2 separate regions of the Homo sapiens genome follow, and region 2 is linked to region 1. The links come from fine-mapping of genetic effects on gene expression. Tissue or cell type: monocytes after interferon gamma. Region 1 holds a variant in brackets; the other region holds the start of a gene. All regions are shown on one strand. Distances are between the middles of the regions.

Evidence for each region. PIP is the estimated chance that this variant, and not a neighbour inherited with it, causes the effect.
Region 2: CCDC61 starts here. The variant in region 1 is fine-mapped to the expression of CCDC61 in monocytes after interferon gamma (Fairfax 2014, PIP 0.93).

The regions. Positions count from the first base shown.
Region 1 is chr19:46,011,990-46,022,716 of GRCh38, forward strand. CCDC61 (coiled-coil domain containing 61) reads left to right here. Exons shown (of 14, transcript NM_001267723.2): 6 at 3,060-3,270; 7 at 3,356-3,438; 8 at 4,065-4,234; 9 at 4,329-4,404; 10 at 4,705-4,844; 11 at 5,002-5,080; 12 at 5,258-5,315; 13 at 6,089-6,161; 14 at 6,301-6,627. The coding sequence ends at 6,398. PGLYRP1 (peptidoglycan recognition protein 1) reads right to left here. Exons shown (of 3, transcript NM_005091.3): 2 at 7,537-7,658; 3 at 7,164-7,430. The coding sequence ends at 7,249. MIR769 (microRNA 769) reads left to right here and starts at 6,943; the gene lies at 6,943-7,060. RefSeq lists silencers at 3,302-3,596, 4,064-4,143, 4,874-4,933 and an enhancer at 9,672-10,557. The variant A/G (reference allele first, on the strand shown) is at 4,779.
Region 2 is chr19:45,989,515-46,000,241 of GRCh38, forward strand. It overlaps CCDC61 (coiled-coil domain containing 61), which reads left to right and starts at 5,953. Exons shown (of 14, transcript NM_001267723.2): 1 at 5,953-5,990. RefSeq lists enhancers at 5,311-5,500, 5,891-6,070.

The DNA of each region.
Region 1 (10,727 bases):
ACGGGGTTTCACCGTGTTGGCCAGGCTGATCTCGAACTCTCGACCTGTCTCAAGTGATCCACCTGTCTCAGACTCCCAGAGTGTTGGAATTACAGGTGTAAGCCACCGTGCCTGGCCTATTTTTCTTTTTTTAAAAATTTTGTGAGCAGTGAGGAGTTCCAGGGCAGGCCCTGACTCCTCCAGACACACCACTTACACCTGAATCTCTGGGATGGGACCCGTCCCTCCTGCCCAAGAGTCCCACTGCTTCCACTACTTAACTTTCTTGTTGTGAAAAATAATATACTCCAAAGAGTATAAAATATAAATGTACGGTTTCACAAATTATCATAAAGCCAGCGTACATGTAACAACTACCCAGGTTAAAAAATTGAGGCTGGGCTCAGTGGCTCACGCCTATAATCCCAGCACTTTGGGAGGCCGAGGCGGGTGGAACACCTGAGGTCAGGAGTTCAAGACCAGCCTGGCCAACATGATGAAACCCTGTCTCTACTAAAAATACAAAAATTTAGCTGGGCAGGGTGGCGCATGCCTGTAGCCCCAGCTACTCGGGAGGCTGAGACAGGAGAATCACTTGAACCCAGGAGGCAGAGGTTGCAGTGAGCCGAGATCACGCCACTGCACTCCAGCCTGGGTGACAGAGGGAGACTCTATGTGGAAAAAAAAAAAAGGAGAAAAAAATCAAAAGTAGTCATTTCCCCATAGCCTCCGTATGTCTTTTTCCGGGAGAGACCCTCCTGCCCCAACCATGCTCCCAAATGCACCAGATCTCACTCACTTGATTTGCTTATGGTTTTGCCAGCTGAACTATGCATCCCTAAACAATATAGTTTAGTTGTATCTCTTTTTGCACTTAATTTAATTTTTTTTTTTTTTTTAAGAGACAGAGTCTTGCCCTGTCACCCAGGCTAGAGTGCAGTAGTGCAGTCATGGCTCACTGTCAACTCAGACTCCTGGGTTCAGACAACCTTCCTGCCTCAGCCTTCCCAGTAGCTGGGACTACAGGCACATGGCACCATGCCAAGCTATTTTTTTTTTTTGAGACAAAGTCTTGTTCTGTCCCCCAAGCTGGAGTGCAGTGGTGCAATGTCAGCTCACTGCAATCTCTGCCTTCTGCCTCCTGGGCTCAAGCGATTCTCCTGCCTCAGCCTCCTGAGTAGCTGGGATTACAGGTGCCCCCCACCAGACCTGGCTAATTTTTTTTTTGAATTTTTAGTAGAGAGGGGGTTTCACCATATTGGCCAGGCTGGTCTTGAACTCATGACCTCAGGTGATCTGCCTGCCTTGGCCTCCCAAAGTGCTGGGATGACAGGCATGAGCCACTGTACCTGGCTGCAAGCTAATTTTTGTAGAGATGGGGATTTACCTTGTTGCCCAGGCATGTCTCAAACTCTTGGGCTCAAGGTATCTGTCCGCCTTGGCCTCCCAAAGTGCTGGGATTACAAGTGTGAGCCACCACACTTGACCTACTTATATGTCTTTTCTTGTGATGAAAATCTTAGTTTCTAGGGATAATAACATATTTATTTGCTTTATCTTAAACAATACCAGTGTAATTACTAATAATTGAATTTTGAATGAAGTTTAACATTTCCAGGGCCGGGTGCGGTGGCTCACGCCTGTAATCCCAGCACATTGGGAGGCTGAGGCGGGCAGATCATGAGGTCAGGAGTTTGAGACCATCTTGGCCAACATGGTGAAACCCCGTCTCTACTAAACATACAAAAATTAGCCAGGGTTGGTGGTGGGCGCCTGTAATCCTAGCTACTTGGGGGCTGAGGCAGGAGAATCGCTTCAACCCGGGAGGCAGAGGTTGCAGTGAGCCAAGATCGTGCCACTGCACTCCAGCCTGGGTGACAGAGCAAGACTCCGTCTCAGAAAAAAAAAAAAAAAGATTTCTTTGCAGTTCTTTTTGGCCTTAGGCTATATCCCGCTTGCTCAAACGATGTGTTTTAGTCACCTCCTATAATTCTCCAATGTGCCACCAACTTTGATATAGAGTTAGGTCTGTTTGGGCCAGTTTCTTTTAAAATTTTTGTGATGGCATTTGTTAAAATTTAATTAATTAATTTGTATAAAATATTTTTATAGTTCCAAAACTGAAAAAGAGGGTACATTCAGAGAGGTCCAATTTCTTACATTTTTTAAAAAATTATTTTTACTTCTGGTTTTCTTATTTTTTTGAGATGTGATCCACCTGCCTCGGCCTCCCAAAGTGCTGAGATTACAGGCATGAGCCACTTTGTCCAGCCAGAGAAGTCCAATTTCTGTTCATTTTCCCCTTCCCCATAAATAATCCTTTTTTCCCCCATAGATTTTGGTTTATTCTGTAATTTTGAAAATATAAACATATAATTTATAATTCTCATTTCTTTTATGAAAAGGGACATTCTGAACATACTGTCTGCACCGCACTGTGTCACAGCAGTCACTCGGTGACAGGACACAGAGATACTCTACTTTCCTCTTTATAGTTTTGTGGGACTCAATTGAGTAGATGTATTAGAAATTCAATTAGTTCTCTTTTAACATACATTTTGGTTATTTCCACTCTTTTGCTATTACAGATTGTGCTGCAATGAATAGCCTTGTGTATACATTTTCTCAAGGAAGGGTTTTGAGCATGGTAGTTACCTGATCAAATTTGTATTGTAGAGGATTTCGTGACTGGGAGACTGGCCTGGCGAGGTGGGAGGAGGAGGGAGGCAGTGCTAGGCTTTCAGGGTGTGTACAGATTGATGAAATCGTTTAGAATTGGAACTCACATGGCTGTGTTCCCACTCCTTCACCCGCACCAGGGGGAGGAGTGTGTGTGTGTGTCCTGTGCGTGGTGGGGTCATGTCCTCTTCGTGAGGTGCATGGGGGTGATGTGACCACATCCCTCCTCACACGTCGCAGGGGATATGATAGGACCCTGCCCCTCCCCATGGGGTCAGTTGAGACTGATGAGCCGTGTACCCCCTTCCGGGGAGGTGAAATGATGAGGCGTCCCACCCCCATGGAGTAGTGGGAATGGGGCCATGCCTCTCTCTCCAGCGCTCTCTCCGCGTCTTCCCCAGGGTGTCGCGCCTGGCGTCCGAGAAGCGGGAGCTGGAGGCGCAGCTGGGCCGATCGCGCGAGGAGGCGCTGGCCGGGCGCGCGGCACGCCAGGAGGCCGAGGCGCTGCGCGGGCTGGTGCGCGGGCTGGAGCTGGAGCTGCGGCAGGAGCGCGGCCTCGGGCACAGGGTGGCCGGCCGTCGCGGCCAGGACTGCCGCCGTCTGGCCAAGGAGGTGAGCAGCGGGGGCCCGGGGCGGCCAGCGAGGCGCGGACCTCGGCCTCAGCCTGGACCTCCGCGCCCCTCTCCCCTCCCGGCAGCTCGAGGAGGCGAAGGCATCGGAGCGGAGCCTGCGCGCCCGGCTGAAGACGCTGACCAGCGAGCTGGCATTGTACAAGAGGGGGTGAGAGCGAGGCCTGCCAGGCGCCTGGGCGGATGGGCGGGCCCTGAGGGTGTGGAGGCTGATGAGGCGGAGCCTAAGGGGGCGGGGCGGGGCCAGGTAGGGTGGAGGGGGCGGGGCTGAAGGGGAGGCGGGGCTTAGCGGACCCCGTCTGGAGTCCAGACAGGATTTGGGTGCAGTGGTTAGGAGGTGGACCCGGGCTGTGCGGAGATGCGCAGGCTTGGGGCGGCGTTCAGGAGGGACTGGGAAAGGGATCGTGCCCTAGGGTCTCCTGGTGCGAAAGGGTGCGGCGCAGCAGGTGGGATCAGGGTGAGGTCCGCTGGCATTTATGGGGTGGGTGGTGGAAAATTGGAAAGAGTTTCCGGGGAGTTGTGGAAGACTCCGGAAAGAAGGGTCTGTTGAAGGCGGTGTGTTGAAAGGATGTAGGGGAATGACAGAGGGGTGTTTTAGGGGTCCAATTGGGTGAGGTCTGGGGGGGAAGATATCGAGAGGGTCATGGGCCCAGGAGTGCACGTCTAGGAGTTGATGGGGTAGGCCTGAGGGTTCGGAGAAGGTGCGGTCGGGGAGGAGTCTCGCGATTGAGTTTGTCGGGGCGGGCGGGAAGCTGACAGCTGCCTCTGTGGTCTCAGGAGGCGGACTCCGCCGGTGCAGCCGCCCCCGACGCGGGAGGACCGGGCCTCATCGTCCCGGGAGCGCTCCGCGTCGCGAGGCCGCGGCGCCGCGCGCTCCTCATCCCGGGAGAGCGGCCGCGGGAGCCGGGGTCGGGGCCGCCCTGCGCGCCCCTCGCCCTCGCCCACAGGTCTGTGCCCCTGCCCTGCGGTAGGGAGGGGACGCACTGGCGCTGCCAAGGCCCGTCTCCGGACCTAGCCGCCTCCTCTCCCACGCCGTCCTAGGTGGTCGCGCGCTCCGCTTCGACCCCACGGCCTTTGTGAAAGCCAAGGAAAGGAAGCAGAGAGAGATCCAGATGAAGTCAGTGCCCCTTCCTCCCTCACCTGCCCCTGTCCCTGGCCCGTGCCCGCTCCCGGGCTCTCATCTCTCCACGCCACCATCAGTCTCCATCCCCTGCCACCTGCTCGCTTCTCGCCGGATACCCCGCCTGCTCTCCCTTCCGTCCGTCCTACCTCCTCGTCTGTGTTTCTGCGTGCTTTCCGCTCGTAGGCCTGTCACCTCAGGCTTTCGCTGGCGTGGCTGTGACCTTTAGGGGCGCAGTGACCCCCTTGCCTGCAGGAGTTGGGCGTACAGACCGGCGTCTCCTTTCTTTTTTCCCAGGCAGCAGCAGCGGAACCGCTTAGGCAGTGGGGGAAGCGGGGACGGTCCGTCCGTCTCCTGGTCTCGCCAGACCC[A/G]GCCCCCTGCTGCCTTGACTGGCCGAGGGGACGCCCCTAACCGCTCCCGAAACCGCAGCTCCTCAGGTAACTGGCCTGGAGCTGGGGGCTGCCGGGCTAGGCGGGACTGGGCGGGGCTGGGCGGGCTGGGAGGCACTGGGCAGGGCGGGCGGGCTGGGAGGGCCTGGGAAGCACTGGGCGGGGCCAGCGAGGGCCAGCGGTCACGCCCTCCGTCTCCCTCTAGTGGACAGTTTCCGCAGCCGCTGCTCGTCTGCCAGCTCCTGCAGCGATTTGGAGGATTTCTCTGAGTCGCTCTCCAGAGGGTAAAACTTGAACTTGGGAAAAGGATCGCCTCCAAAGGGTTTCTGGGGAGACTAGAAACAGTCTTTTGCAGGGAAATTGGGTGATGGAGCCTGGGGGCCTTGAAACCACAAAGGTCGGGGAGGTGGGAAGTACCAGAGCCTCCCCACCACTGGTCCTTGGTTACTCCTTTTTCTCAGGGGTCACCGCCGCCGTGGGAAGCCTCCCAGCCCAACGCCCTGGAGTGGGTCCAATATGGTGAGTAGAAGGGGCAACATAAACCACTGGAACACAGCTGCCCCCATTTCCTGTGATTCCTTCCTGGGGATCAGGTGCAGAGGCGACTCTGAATGCCTTTGGCAATAGGGCTTTTTTAAGAGTGCGTCTCGCTCTTTCAGGCTGGGGTGCAGTGGGGCAATTGTAGCTCACGGCAGCTTTCAACTCCTGGACTCAAGAGACCCTCCCACCTCGGCCTATGGAGTAGCTGGGACTAGGCTTTTTTGGGGGGGCAGGGTGGGGTTGAGACAGGATAAGGGGGTGGTATTGTCTCTTTATGTTGCCCAGGCTGGTCTGGAACTCCTGGCCTCAAGCCATCCTCAGCCTCCTACAGCGCTGGAGTTACAGGCTGGGCCAGCGCACCTGGCCTGGGAACAGCACGTTTTGAGAGCATTAGATTGGAGAAGGAATAATGAGGGGCACGTGATGCTCTTTAGGGCTTTGGCTTCTGACTGTCAGGTCTTGAAACCTGTCTCCTCCTCTTCCCAGCTGTATGGTTCAAGGCAGTTCTTTAGCCTCTCTGTACCTTAGTTTTTGTTTATCAGTTAACCAGGGTTGGTAATGGCATCACCTCACATGTGAGGTGAGGGCTCTGTGAGGACATTAGGAGGTTATTTTGCAGATAATGAATGGCCAGTAGGTGTCAGGCCTTATTTTTCCCCAAGGTCCTTAGGCTCAGGATTTCCAGTGGGATTTAGGGGGACAGAAATAGAGGGACGGTGGGTGACCCCCTTTCCTACCTTCCCCATCACCAGAAGTCTCCCCCCGTGGAACGCAGCCACCATCAGAAATCTCTGGCCAACTCCGGGGGCTGGGTCCCCATCAAAGGTGAGCCTGGGACTCCACATCCCCTCTCCCAGCCCCAGGACCCGTTGGAATGGTAGTGCGGGCAGTGGTATATTGGGCCCAGGAACTCCCTGGGGCTTCAGGCCCCTCACAGCCCCCATACCCACACCTGCTCTCACAGAGTACAGCTCGGAGCACCAGGCGGCTGACATGGCCGAAATAGACGCACGCCTGAAGGCCTTGCAGGAGTACATGAACCGACTGGACATGCGGTCATAACGTGGAGAAGGGGTACTACCCCTCCATCCCCCACCCACTTGCTGGGTATGGTGTGGGGGGTGGGGCCAGGGTGGCCTCCAGCCCTGCCCAGTCCCTGCCCTGGCCCCGTCCCTCCTGCTGCCCCTGGGGTCTCAGGTGTGTGAGGCCCTGACCCTGCCCTCTCCCCAGGCAGTGCATGCTGGGAGGGAGGATGTGTGCATTTTGTAAATAAACATATTTGCCCTGGGGACCCCTCAGCTTATGACTAAAGGGTGAGGGTGGAGTGGGGAGAAATGTGGAGGAAGAGAAATTGGGGGGTATAATTGGGACCTGTGTGTCTGTGCCTCGGAGGCAGATTGGGACTCAGGCCTAGGAAAAGCTTGTACACTCTCTAAACAGTGCAAGGGCAGACCTGGGAGGAGTAGTGAGCAGCCCGTCCCTAAAGGAGTCCAAGCAAAGTTTCTGCGCAGGATGCCTTTGGCTGTGTGGTGGGAAGGAGGTGTCTTGCAGCGTGGTTCACTGCCCAGGAGGACCCCCAGGACCCACTGTTGGTGACATCCCGGCCGCCTTGGTGCTGATTCCTGGGCTCTGACCTGAGACCTCTGGGTTCTGAGCTGTGATGTTGCTCTCGAGCTGGGATCTCCGGGGTCTTGGTTCAGGGCCGGGGCCTCTGGGTTCCAAGCACCAGTGAGGAGAGTGCTGGGAGGGGAAGGGGTGGGAGGGCTTTGGTCTTGTGGGAGGGAGAGAAGGAGGGGAGGTGTGTGGTGGGACCTGCTGAGGAACACATTTTGAGCTACATCTTTATTGGAGAAGGAGACAGTGGGGTTTTTGGCCATGGGAGGGGAGGAATGGGGTGCGGATCAGCAGGGCCTCAGGGGGAGCGGTAGTGTGGCCAATTCTGGATGAGGTGGTAGAGCTGGTTGCCTGGAGAGAGTGTACGCTGCACATCCCGGTGTCCTTTGAGCACATAGTTGGACCTCAGGGCTCCCTGAGCCACACCGCAGGCCAGTAGACCCTGGGCTGCCCGGATGGCCTGGGGTGTGGGCACCCGATCTGGAGGAGGCAGAGGTAGGAGTCAGGCAGGGGCTTCCCCGAAGGGGAAGTGATAGCGTAGGGCCCCGTGTCAGCCCCCATCCCAACTGGCTGGACAGTCACTCACCCATGTAGTTGCCCATGAAGCTGATGCCAATGGACATGGGGTTCCATAAGTGACCTGAGTGGGCACCCGTGAAGTTCCAGCCACGGCCCTCGTATACGAGCCCGTCTTCTCCAATCAGGAAGCTGCATGGGGAGGTGGGGGGGCTTGATGAGTGAGGGAGGGTTTCCCGAGGAGGACTCCTCCTCCTTCCTCCACTCACCCTGCCTCCGTTACTGCCGTGGTGCACACAACTTCCCCAGCATCCTTCTCACCCGTTAATTTCCCACGATAGTAACAATGACTGTGGTCATTTATTGGGCCCCTGCCATGTGCCAAGCACAGCTCTGCATACACCTTTTTCCATCCTCACAGCAACCCTGTGAGTCACTATCACCCCCGTTTTATATAGACAGAATCAGAGCGGTAGAATCACCTGCCCCGGGGTCACACAGCCTGTCTGGGGCACAGCTGGGGTTTTTAACCAGGCCTCCATGGTCCCCACCCATGTGATCTTGTGCGTTGCTCTCTCCTGCCTCCCTAGAGGATTTGTGGAAGTCCTGTTTTACTGAATCCTTGCAGGACAGCCCTCTGAGGCAGAGACTTTTTTTTTTTTTTTTTTTTAAGACGGGGTTTCACTCTTGTTGCTCAGGCTGGAGTGCAGTGGCGTGATCTCAGCTCACCGCAACCTCTGCCTCCTGGGTTCAAGTGATTCTCGTGCCTCAGCCTCCTGAGTACCTGGGATTACAAGCATGAGCCACCACACCCGGCTAATTTTTGTATTATTAGTAGAGATGGGGTTTCACCATGTTGGCCAGGCTGGTCTCGAACTCCCGACCTCAGGTGATCTGCCCGCCTTTGGCCTCCCAAAGTGCTGGGATTACAAGCATGAGTCACCGTGCCCAGCCAAGGCAGGGACTCTTATCATCCTCATCTTAAGCAGAGAGAGCAGAGACTCAGAAAGCGACATAATTTGTACAAGCTACTCAGAGCCCCCTGCCTCTCAGAACTCTGCCTTTGCCCCAGCTTGCTTCCTGCCCTCGGGGTCCACTGGGGGACAGGATCACAGACTCAAAGTTGGGGTCGTAACCAGATACCGACCCTGGAGCCCCAGCACCTGCCTCTTTGAGGTTCCCAAGCCTGGCAGCAGATCCTTAAGGCTGATTCATTCAGCACATCTGATTGAGCGTGTCTGACTTGGCAAATGGGAATGAACTAGAAGATCAGTGCCTTGGAGCTGCAGTATGTGCCAACTCAGCCCCCGCGCTCACAGTGTCATTAATGACGCACAGAATGTCGGAACTTCCGAATCTTGAGTCCCGAATCTGCTGCTTAGGAAGCCAGCTCCCAGAATCTGGCCCCAGTGATGCTGGCTGCTGGGACTGGCTGGTTATGGCCCTGCTGGTGATGCTGGCTGCTGGGACTGGCTGGTTATGGCCCTGCCATATTCCCGGAGCCTGGCATGATGGTGCTGGGGTCGGGGGTGGTTGGTTCTCCCTGGTCATTTGTTGCATGAATGCATCTCATTGAAACCTCAGCCACCATCGCCAAGCGGGTACAGTCAGAAGCCCCATTTACAGGTGAAGAAACGAGGCTCAGAGAGAGAAGGTGACGTGACATGGAAAGGGGATTCAGAACGTTAGAACCAGATTCGGAATCCTAAAAGCTGAGGGCCAGACAGCGGCTGCTTCTGTATGTGGTGATGTGGACCCGAGGCTCGGGCCTTCGTGACCTCATGGGAACACTTAGGATCAGAGCGCCTGAGTCTTGGAAACAAAATGTTGAAGTTGGAGTCTTTGATAAAATCTTGAACTGGAAGGGCTGGGAATACCTTTGGACACTTCTAGACTTCTCTGGGTGGGTTTTGTGTGTGTGTGTGTGTGAGACACAGCCTTAGGAGGTCCTGAGAACATGTGTCCCCTGGGTGGGGTCTATTGAAGTGGTCTCTGGGGACCTGCATGTTCCTCCAATAAGCTCTGCAGGAGATTCTGATGCTTACCTGGGTCTGAGAGCCTGCAGGATTGAAAGTTCCCTCCCTGTGGAAACCGTCAGGCTGGACTGCAGCCCATTCTAAGGAGGAGGTAGCTGGTAGGCGTGGCCCCGGACCTGCTTCAGCCTGCTTCAGCCGGCACCCCTTACAGTCTGTTCTCCCCACAGCAGCCAGAGGGAGTCTCTTGTACCTACACTAGCCCTGGTCCCTGCTCTGCGGGGGGAAGCCTCCCATGGCTCCCATCTCGGAGTAAAAGCTACAGTCCTCACTGTGGTCCACAAAGCCCTGCCTGGTCCTGCCCTTTCCTCATTTCATTCCGCTCGCCCGGCTGTGTTCAGCCACCCTGTCCTTCCCACAGGACCCGCCCACTCAACCCCGTTGGCTTTGCCCCCAGCACCCCCTGCCACCTGCAGGCCTCTGTCTGCTCCCCCATCCCAGAGCCAAGGCAGCCACTCTCAGGGAGGCTTTCCCTTGCCCCACCCTTCCAAGGAGCCTGTGTGGGTCTGGTCCCAGCCTGAGGTCACCCTCCCTCACCTCTTTCCTTTTATCCATCGCCTCTATCACCGTCTGAATTCACCTGTGGCCTTGGCTTGTTTCTCCCTGCTGGTCTTTCAACCCCAGGAGGCTAGAGTGGCACCGTTCTCCATGCCACATCTGGCACACTGCCTGGCACATAGTAGGTGCCTAATGGTAATAGCCCGTGGCTTTGCGGGCCCCCGTGTGCCAGGCAGTTCCTAGGTGCTTTGCCTGTATTGGCTCATATAAGGAGCAGATGGGCCGCGATTCCATTGACTTTGCCGAGGAGGAAGCTGAAGCCGGGAGGACCCGCCCCAGGCCTCAGCCAGCAATAAGATGAGCTGACCCTGGAACCCAGCTCCGCACTGAGTCAGCCTGGTTTTCCGCCTCCTAACAAAGGCACCAGGCATCAGGAAGGGGCGCCTTCATAAGGCGTCGCGGACACCTTGGTGTGTGTTAGGCAAAGCCTGCCCCTTCTTCCCGGGAGCGGGAGCGGGGCTTGGATTTCAGCCCATCCCCCCTTCTCACGCATCTTTGTGCTGTGAGCACCTGCCCCGGCCCACGTGGTGACCCGAGGAAGAAATGACCTTGTGAGGTTCAGTAAGCTGCTCAGGGTGTCAGCCAGGTGGCCTCAGCACCAGGCCTAGAAATGGTCCCGCTGGCGGGCACTTGCACACCTTTGCCTCTGGGATCCCCAGTCCAGCCCGTG
Region 2 (10,727 bases), 22 kb before region 1:
CTCCCTCCTTGTTGACAGTCATGCCTTCCTCCTTGGTTTATTTTCTCCCTCAGGTTCCAGGACACTCCACTCTCAAGACTTCCCTTCTGGCCCATTGGCTCCTCTGCAGTCTTGCCCGTCCTTGGAGTCTTTAAACATTGGAGGGCTGTAGGGCTCAGTTCTGGATTCTCTTCTCCTTTCTCTCTTCACTCACTCTTTTGGTGATGGACTCCCACATCAATCAGTCTAGGTTGGATCTTATCCCTGAACTCAGACTCATATTCACCTGTCCTCTCAATATTTCCACTGGGAAGTCTACTGGGTACCTCAACACTTCCAAAACCAAATTTCTGATTCACATTCTCCTCCTGTCTCCCTATACCTGCAATTCACCTAATCTCAATACGTGGAAACCTCATCTTGGCATCTTTTCAGATCAAAAACCTTAGAGTTGGCCGGGCGCGGTGGCTCACGCCTATAATTCCAGCACTTTGGGAGGCTGAGGCGGGTGGAACACCTATGGTCAGGAGTTCAAGACCAGCCTGGCCAACATGGTGAAACCCTATTTCTACTAAAAATGCAAAAAATTAGCCAGGCGTGGTGGCGGGTACCTGTAATCCCAGCTACTCGGGAGGCAGAGGCAGGAGAATCGCTTGAACCCGGGAGGCGGAGGTTGCAGTGAGCCGAGGTCGCGCCACTGCACTCCAGGACCCTTAGAATCATTTTTGACTCCTCTCTTTCTCTTCCTCCCGACACTCAATCCATCAGCAGATTCTGTCAGCTCTACCTTCAGAATAGATTCTAACCACTTCTCACCACCTCCGCCATCACCACCCTCGTGGAAGCCACCATCACCTCTCATTCTAATGATTTTTTAATCTGTTGCTTAAATTCTTTTTTTATTGAGGTGAAATTCACATTAACAGAAAATTAACCATTTTAAAGTGAGCAATTCAGTGGCATTTAGTACGTTCATAATGTTGTGCAATCATCACCTCCATCTAGTTCCAAAACATTTCATCACCCCCCAAAGGAGACCTCACACCCATTAAACAGTGATTACCCATTCGCTCCTTCCCCCAGCCTCTGGCACCACAACACTATTTTCTGTCTCTGTGGACTTGCCTCTTCTGGACACTTCATATAAATGGAATCATACACTATGTGACCTTTTGTGTTTGTCTTCTTTCACTTAGCATCATGTTTTCAAGGTTTATTATCCATGTTGTAGCATCTATCAGCACTTCATTTCTTTTCTCTTTTTCTTTTGTTTTTGAGATGGAGTCTTGCTCTGTTGCCCAGGCTCGAGTGCAGTAGCGCGATATTGGCTTGCCGCAACCTCCGCCTCCCGGGTTCAAGCAATTCTCCTGCCTCAGCCTCCTGAGTAGCTGGGATTACAGGCATGCGCCTCCATGCCTGGCTAATTTTGTATTTTTAGTAGAGACTAATATGGTTTTGCCATGTTGGCCACGCTGGTCTCGAACGTCTGACCTCAGGTGATCCGCCTGCCCCGGCCTCCCAAAGTGCTGAGATTACAGGCATGCCACTGCACCTGGCCTTATCTGCTCATAGATTTATGGACATTTGGGTTGTTTCCACCTTTTAGCTATTGTGAATAATGCTGTTATGAACATCCATGTACAAGTATTTGAATACCAGTTTTTAATTCCCAGGTATACACCTAGGAGTGTAATTGCTGGGTCATGTGTTAATTCTGTTTAACTTTCTGAGAAACTGGCTGTTTTCCATGTCCACATTATTTTAACAGCCTAAGTTTTTTAATTTAAATTTTTATTTTTAGAGATCGGTTCTCACAGGCTGGAGTGCAGTGTCGAACTCCTGTCCTCAAACAATCCACCTGCCTCAACCTCCCGAGTAGCTAACAGCCTATTCTTAATGCAGCCACCATAATGATCATTGAAGACATGAATGAGTAGGCCAGGCGGTGGGGCTCACCCCTGTAATCCTAGTACTTTGGGAGGCTGAGGCGGGTGGATTGCTTGAACTCAGGCGTTCCAGACCAGCCTGGGTAACATGGCGAAACCTCGTCTCTACTAACAATACAAAAGTTAGCCAGGTGTGGTGGTGCATGCCTGTAATCCTGCTACTCGCGGGGTTGAGGCAGGAGGATTGCTTGAAACAGGGAGGCTGAGGTTTCAGTAAGCCGAGATGGAGCCACTGCACTCCAGCCTGGGTGACAAAGTGAGACCCTGATTCAAAAAAAAAACAAAAAAAGACATGAGTAAAATTATGTCCTCTCTGCCTAATACCTTCGATGGCTCCCACCTCACTCAGAGTAAAACAAAAGGCCTCACAAGGGCCGACAAGGCCTTATATAACCTGGTCTCAGGCATCCTCCCAGACATCATCTTCTGTCACACTCCACACACTCAATATTGATGTCTTTGCTGTTTCTTAGAAACACCAGGCATGTTCCCACTACAGGGCCTTTGTACTCACTGTCTCATCTTCTTGCAATGGTCCACCTTGGTACCCTCAAGGCTGGCTTGGCCAGGAGCGGTGGCTCACGCCTGTAATCCCATCACTTTGGGAGCCCGAGGCGGGTGGATCACATGAGCTCAGGAGTTCGAGAGCAGCCTGGCCAACATGGTGAAACCCCATCTCTACTGAAAATACAAAAATTAGCCAGGCATGGTGGCATGTGCCTGTAATCCCAGCTACTTGGGAGGCTGAGGCAGGAGAATTGCTTGAACCCAGGAGGTGGAGGTTGCAGTAAGCTGAGATCACGCCATTGCACCTCCAGTCTGGGCCACAGAGCGAGACTCCATCTCAAAAATAAATAAATAAATAAATAAAAATAAAAATAAAAAAAATAAATAGGCTGGGTGTGGTGGCTCACACCTGTAATTCCAGCACTTTGGGAGGCTGAGATAGGTGGATCACTTGAGGTCAGGAGTTCAAGACCAGCCTGGCCAACACGGTGAAACCCCATCTCTACTAAAAATACAAAAAAATTAGCCAGGCCTGGTGGCAGGCACCTGTAATCCCAGCTACTCAGGAGGCTGAGGCAGGAGAATTGCTTGACTTTGGGAGGTGGAGGGTGCAGTGAGTCAGGCGCCACTGCACTCCAGCCTGGGCGACAGAGTGAGGCTCTCTCTCCAAAATAAATAAATGAATAAATAAATTCCTGGCTCAGTCACTTGCTTCAGGTCTCTGCTCTAAATCAGCTTTTCTGAGACATCTTCCCACCCCTCTAACCCCCAGTTCCATCCACTTCACTCTGCTTTATTTTCTCTGTAGCACTTATCACCCCGGACCTGGACATTTCTTTCTTTCTTTTTTTTTTTTTTCTTTTTTTTGAGATGGAGTCTCGCTCTGTGGCCCAGTCTGGAGTGTAGTGGCCTGATCTCAGCTCACTGCAACCTCTGCCTTCCGGGTTCAAGCGATTCTCCTGCCTCAGCCTCCCAAGCAGCTGGGATTACGGGCATGCACCGCCATGCCCAACTAAGTTTTGTAGTTTTAGTAGAGACAGAATTTTGCCATGTTGGCCAGGCTGGTCTTGAACTCCTGACCTCAGGTGATCCGCCTGCCTTGGCCTCCCAAAGTGCTGGGATTACAGGCGTGAGCCACCGCGCCTGGCCTATTTCTTTACTATATGTTATTATTTGCCTTCCTTTCACTAGGGTATGAGCTTTTCCTGTTTGTTACCAGATGTTTCTACCTCCAGCACCCAGAAAAGTGCCTGGAACATAGCAGGTGCTCAATAAATGGCCTGACAAGTGAGTGAAGAAATAAGTGAAGCAATGAATTGAACTCCACTTACAGATGAAGAAAGTGAAGTTCCCAGAAGAGGCATGACTTGTGGGAGGTCTCACAGCTGGCAAGGGAAAGCCTTCAGATTCTAATCCATGTTTCCTTTTTTTTTAATTGTTATTTATTTATTAATTATTTTCTTAGAGACAGAGTCTTGCTCTGTCACTCAAGCTGGAGTGCAGGCATTTATGGGATTTAGCTGAGGGGAAGGTGAAGTGAGAATACATTTAGATTGGGTTTACAGGGATATTTTTATGTGGTTCATAGATACTTCTCGGATACTTAAACCACCTAATTAGTTGTCATGGCGTAGAAATGGCTTCCCGGAATGCTTCTGTTGTGTAAGTTACTAACTCACTAGATGCGAGGCCACAGCCTACTAAATGGCATGAATGTATCTTTTAGCGGCTCATTCCAGAAGCATCTGTGTAACAGAAATGTCAGGAATTGAAAGGAAGCCTGCGCGGTGGCTCACACCTGTAATCCCAGCATTTTGGGAGGCTGAGGTGGGAGGACTGCTTGAACTCAGGAGTTCGAGACCAGCCTGGGCAACATAGTGAAACCCCATGTGTACTAAAAATAAATTAAAAAAAAATTAGCCAGATGTGATGGCGTGTGCCTGTAGTACCAGCTACCTGGGAGGGTAAGGCAGGAGGATCACTTCAGCTCAGGAGTTCAAGGCTGCAGTGAGCCATGAACATGCCACTGCACTCCAGCCCAGCGATGAAGCGAGACCCTGTCTCAGCAAACAAAGAAACCAACAAACAAAAAATTGAAAGTATTGAGCCAGAAGTTAGTCTGTGGAAACATTTTCCAAAACATAGTTAACATGTGAATGAAACTTTATGAAAGTTTTTCTTTTTTTTTTTTTGGAGGTGGCATCTCACTCTGTTGCCCAGGCTGGCGTGCAGTGGCACGATCTTGGCTCACTGCAACCTCCGCCTCCCGAGTTCAAGTGATTCTCCTGCCTCAGCCTCCTGAGTAGCTGGGATTACAGGCGTCCGCTACTGCGCCCAGCTAATTTTTTATATTTTTAGTAGAGACAGGGTTTCACCAGGTGGTTCAGGCTGGTCTCGAACTCCTGACCTCGTGATTCCCAAAGTGCTGGGATTACAGGTGTGAGCCACCGCGCCTGGCCAGAAGTTTTTCTAGATTTCCAAAAGACTTCAATAACATCACCAATACTGATTTGTGAAGCTGAAACTTGTTCTAAATTATAATGAATTTTTAAAAAGTTCCATCAACCACGCTAGAGGAAAGATAACTTACTTTTCTCTTTGTAGACAAGGATATTGTGAAACATGCAGCTGAAAAAGTAGGAAACATCACAGAGGTGTGTCAGGCAGAAAATTAATAAAAACATTACGTTATCCTTTGGGATTTTGCAATGTTTGTGGTATTTGGCTCTTTTAAATATGTAATTTGTTATTATTTCATATTCTAAGTAAACTTTCATGTCAGTTTTTTTTTTTCTTTAAACTTTATTTTCCTTTCTTAAAGAGGTCCCTCCTCCCCCATCCCCGCGCTCAATTCCTTTAGCTGGATCCTTCCAGTTCATGACTGATCGGTTTAAAATATGGGTCGTTCAAAAGCCGTGTGAACCCGGGCTAGTGGCTATACCTCTCTGAGACTGTTTTCTTAGTGGTAAAATGGAAATCATAATAACTTTGCAGGGCTGTTATAAAGTTTAAATAAGCCAAGTCCTGCAAAATGCTTAGTGCAGGTTTGGAATGCACCAAGCGATGACAAATCTCAACCTGTCTTTATGCTGAGACCACTCCCCAGTTTCCGGAGCCGCGGCCACTATCTCCCCATGCGCATGCACACCCGGCTCTCCCTTCCAGGCCCTCCCCACCACGTGGGCGCGGCCTACCCTCCCGCAGGGGGTAATAGGTGGAGTCAAGGGGCTACTTCCGGGATTCTTTCCCTTCCACTCTGGGGAACAACCTTTTTGTATGACTGGCAGCATTATTAGCCAGTAGTGATTAGAGAAGAGCCCGACGTTAGGTGCCTCCCCCAACCCATTTGGGACAGCCTCTTCTTAGTTAGCCAATTGGAAGTTTTGGAGGGCGGGTTCTCCTCTGGGGGAGGGACAGAGTGATGGGCGTCTCTTTTGGCTAATGGAAACTTGGCTGCTGGTAAGCTGTGACCAATCAGAAGCGAGAACGCCGGATCCTGGGGCGGGGCTGGAGCTTCGTCAGTTGAACCGCTCGCGAGGAGGGTTGCTAGTGGAGAAGGTGAGAGGCCGCGGGAGTGGCGGTTGCGCGGGCCGTGGTGGAGGTCTTAGGTGGAGGGGAAGGGGCTTCTCTCGGGGGAGAGTGGGCTGCGGTGGGCAGCTGACCTGGCCTTGTAGGAATCGGGAGGGAGGGTGCCCTTTAACAAGGGTAGGCGCTTGATTGAGGGGTTGTGAGGCTGAGCGCAGCATGTGAGTTGGGGGTGATCTGTATATCGCAGGAGGGTCTTCAATGGGGAAAGTTGTAAAGCAGGAGACAGCAGATGGTAAAATATAGAGACGTCCTTGGAATGCAGCGTGGCGATTTAGTAGGAGGTTTTAAGGCAGAGGGTTATTACAGCGCACTATGCTTTACAAGCTTTGATTTGGGTGAAAGTCGTGGGAAGAAGCAATATTGAGGAAGGGAGGGAAGGAGACCTCCAGGGATGAGCATGTACTTTAAAGAGATGTGAAGCCCTATTATGCCTGTGGCGTTTGCTATGTGCTGTGCACCTGCCAAGTGTTTTAGGTGAATTAACTCTTAAACTTACTCTACTGATGGTTAAGAATGTGGGCTCTGGCGTCGGGTTGAATCCCGAATTTGAATCCTGGCTCTGCCACTGATCATTACTGTGGCTTTGGGCCAGTTGTTTAACCCTTCTGTGCCTCAGCTTCATCATCAGTAGAATGACATCATCTCTGTCTATACCATTGGCTAGCTTCACCCTCTTTATCTAATGAGAACTCCCACGTGTGTATTTCCAGCCTGGATCTCTGCCCTGAACTCCAGACTCATATCATGGCCGACTCTTCTCTCTTTGGAAGTTCATCTGACATTCAGACATAAACTTGTCCCAAACCAATCTTGCGATTTCTTCCTTTCAACCTCCAAACCCAGTTGATGGGACATTCATCCTGCCAGGTACTAAGATCAAGAAGCTTGGAGTGTTCTTTTTTTTTTTTTTTTGAGACAGAGTTTCGCTCTTGTAGCCCAGGCTGGAGTGCAATGGCGCGATCTTGGCTCACTGAAACCTCCACTTCCCAGATTCAAGGGAATTACAGGCGCCCGCCACCACACCCAGCTAATTGTTTGTATTTTTAGTAGAGAAGGGGTTTCACTATGTTGGCCAGGTTGGTCTTGAACTCGTGACCTCAGGTGATCCACCCGCCTCAGCCTCCCAAAGTGTTGGGATTACAGGCGTGAGCCACCGTGCCTGGCTAGCTTGGAGTCTTCTTCACTTCTCCCTTTTGTCTTACTTATATATGGTCTAGCAGATCGCATTAGCTCTGTCTTCAAAACACATCCAGAATCCAACCATGCCTCACCAGCTCCTTTGCTACCACTCTGGCCTCAGTTTGTCTCCTGCTCTTACCTGGTTTGTTGCAGTGGCCTTCCAGGTGGGCTCTCTGCCTCTCACTGTTAGGGGGATACTAGTAGAACAGAAGTCAGGTCAGGTTGTTTCTCCTTTCAAACCCTCTCCTGGCTCCCACATTACACTGCAAAAGTCTTCACCATATCCACGAGGCCCCAACCTATTGGGTTCCTCCTCCTCCCTCCCCTCAACTCCCATCACTTCTCTCATTCCCCTGGCTCACTCTGCTGCAGCCACCCTGGCCTCCCCGCTGTCATTTGAACATAGCGAACACATTGCCATCTCAGGGCCTTTGTACTCGCTGTCCCTGAACGCACTGCCACCTCAGGGCCTTTGTACTCGCTGTCCTGTCCTTCTGGATCAGGTCTTTTCAGGTGTCTGTGTGGCTTCTTCCACACCTCTTTCAGGTCTCCGCTCAGACGTCAGCTTCACAACCAGGCATTTGCTAAAGTACTACTCAAGCTAAAATAACTCCTGTCACTGTATGGCCCTTCACTTGGCTTTATTTTTCTTCATAACACCACTACCTGATATAGATTATTATTATTATTTTTTTTGAGATGGACTCTTGCGGGTCACCCAGGCTGGAGTGCAGTGGCGCGATCTCGGCTCACGGTAGCCTCCACCTCCTGGGTTCAAGTGATTCTCCTGCCTCAGCCTCCCAACTAGCTGGGATTACAGGTGTATGCCAGCATGCCCAGCTAATTTTTACATTTTTAGTAGAGACGGGGTTTTGCCATGTTGGCCAGGGTGGTCTCAAACTCCTGACCTCAGGTGATCCACCCACCTCAGCCTCCCAAAGTGCTGAGATTACAGGCGTGAGCCACTGCGCTGGGCCTATTATTATTTTTTGAGATAGAGTCTCTCTCTGTCACCCAGGCTGGAGTGCAGTGGCCTCATCTCAGCTCACTACAACCTACGCCTCCCAAGTTCAAGTGATTCTCCTGTTTCAGCCTCCCAAGTAGCTGGAACTACAGGCATATGCCACCACGCCTGGCTAATTTTTGTAATTTTAGCAGAGATGGGGTTTCACCATCTTGGCCAGGCTGGTTTCGAACTCCTGACCTCAAGTGATCTGCCCACCTCAGCCTCCCAAAGTGCTGAGATTACAGGCGTGAGTCACTGTGCCCGGTCCTCACATCAATTACTGTTGGTTTATATCCACTGGGCTTCTTGGACCTCCCCACTAGAGTGTTTGACTCCATGTGAATATGGAACCCAGCACCTAGAAGAGCACATGGTGTTTAAAAAGTGTTGCTTCTCCTATACTGTCCTCACCACCCTTTGGGGTCTCCCTGTGGTATGGGGCAGGGTTGCTGAACTAGGAGGGTCATGTGTGGGGTGGTAGGGTCGGAGGTGGGGGAATAAACTGGGCAGATTGTGGCGCCCAAGGGCAGAAGGAACCTTTAGTGTCTGAAGGAACTTGGAGGAAATGCAGATTTCTGGGCCCACCCCCAGAGTTTCTGCTTGTGTATAGTTGGGACCCGACCTAGGAAGCTGCATTTTCATAAGCACTTGTGGTAAGGATTATGTTCCTTGGCCATCACTGTGAGAAACACTGTTAGGCTGGTTCAGAGTTTGCTGGGGCCACTGTGGTGATTGAGACAGCTCCTGACCCAGCCTGGGAGTCAGGGAGGGCTTCCTGCAGGAGAGGGGATTGGAGCTGAGACCTGGAGGATGACAGGGAATGAGCCGAGGGGAGAAAACCTTGGCTGTATCCCCAGTGTCTAGAACCCCATTCCCTGGCATCTCCCGTTAAATTCACAAGCAGTCCCTGAAGATACAAGATTGATTAAAATGGCTCTGCCCTCACGGGCTCCTGGTCTGTCAAATAATCAACAGATCACACAGATGGTAACAGGGAGTGCCAGCCACTGTTTGAAGCACCTTATATACACTAAATAATTTAGTTCAACAACAACCCTATAAGGTAGGAGCTCTTATTATCCCGCTTTACTGATGGGGGAAGGCCCAGAGAGGGCAAGTACTTTGCCCAAGGACACACCAAGGAGAAAGGCAGCTGGAATCTGAACCCAGAAGTACCCAGCCTGCAGCATGTGCCATGCTTAAGGTGTGAGGCCGCATTTGGGTTAGTTCTGGGAGGAAACAGGAGGTGGTCAGGGAAGGTCAGCTGGGTAAGGGGAAGGAAGACGAATGTTTCTGTCTTTCATGGTGGGATCCTAGACAAGCCTCAGTTTCATCCTCTGTATAATGGGGATGGTTATAATACCCACCAGAGAGCAGAATTTAGGGTGAGTCATTCATTGGGTTAATAAGTGTGCATGGTCCTTATCTAAGGCAAAAGTTTGCCTTTGAGAGACAGTGGGAGAGGGAGTTGATGCCCCAGGGGGAACTGGGGTGCCGCAGTGTGCACCGTAGAGATTTCATTGCTTGGTTCCCCAGAGGGCTTCTCTGTCTCTACAGTCTATGGGGACAATGTGGAAGGCTTTGGTCTGTATTCTGGGGCAGTGAAGGGGGGGTTCTATCCAGCCTCAATTCACCCACGTGGTGGGGAGGTGAGGTCAGAATGGGGTCGGGAAGGGGGTCATCCAGGCCAGGCCACGCGTGTGAATGTGGGGCGGAGGGCTGCTGCAGGAGAGAGCCCATCTAGGGTATGGCTGGGCTGGAATATGTGTTGGCGGTGGTGGGGAGCTGCAGAGTGTGGGGAAACAGCCATCAGGTGTGGGCTGCCAAGGGCAGTGATTTGCCCGTGTCTGGTATGGGAGGTAGTGATGTAGATTTGTCTTTGGTGAGCCCAGCGTGGAGAGTTTTCAGCTCCGGCCCCGGGGTAAGAGCTGTGAAATCTGTGAGCTATCTGGGGAGAGCCATTTGGAAGGTGGAGCCAGGGGTGGTGATGTAACGCTGGAAAGGAAAGGGGTCATCCTAGTGAATGATGAGAGGGAGAGAGCTGGGGGCTGAAACACTGGGTGTAAGTGTGCCAGCGCCATGATGTCATGAGGCCCGAGAAGTGGGTCAGGTGTGTGGGCCAGGATGGGGCCTGGAGGGCAGCCGCACAGTGCTCGCAGGGATGGGGTGGTGACGTCATGGGTTGGTGAGGGCGGGGCCTCGAAGGCACCGCTGGGATGCGTGAGGTCAGGAAGGAGGCAGAGGCTGAGAAGAGGAACTGGGAGAGGCTCAGGACTGGAATGAAATCAGCCACCAGGATGAGCCACTGGTCATTCCGAAGCAAGGATGGAGGATGCAGGTAGAGGGACAGGGTCAGCGGCGGGAGGGGAGAGGGGGCTCAGGGTCCGGGGAATCCTAGAAGTGGCGGTGGTGGTGGGGTCAGTGGAGAGGAGGGGTTGTTCAGAGAGGGCTCTCTAAAGGGAAGAGAGGTGGAAAATATGTGTGCGGGTGGAGTGGGGGTTGGGGGTGGGGTTACAAGCAAT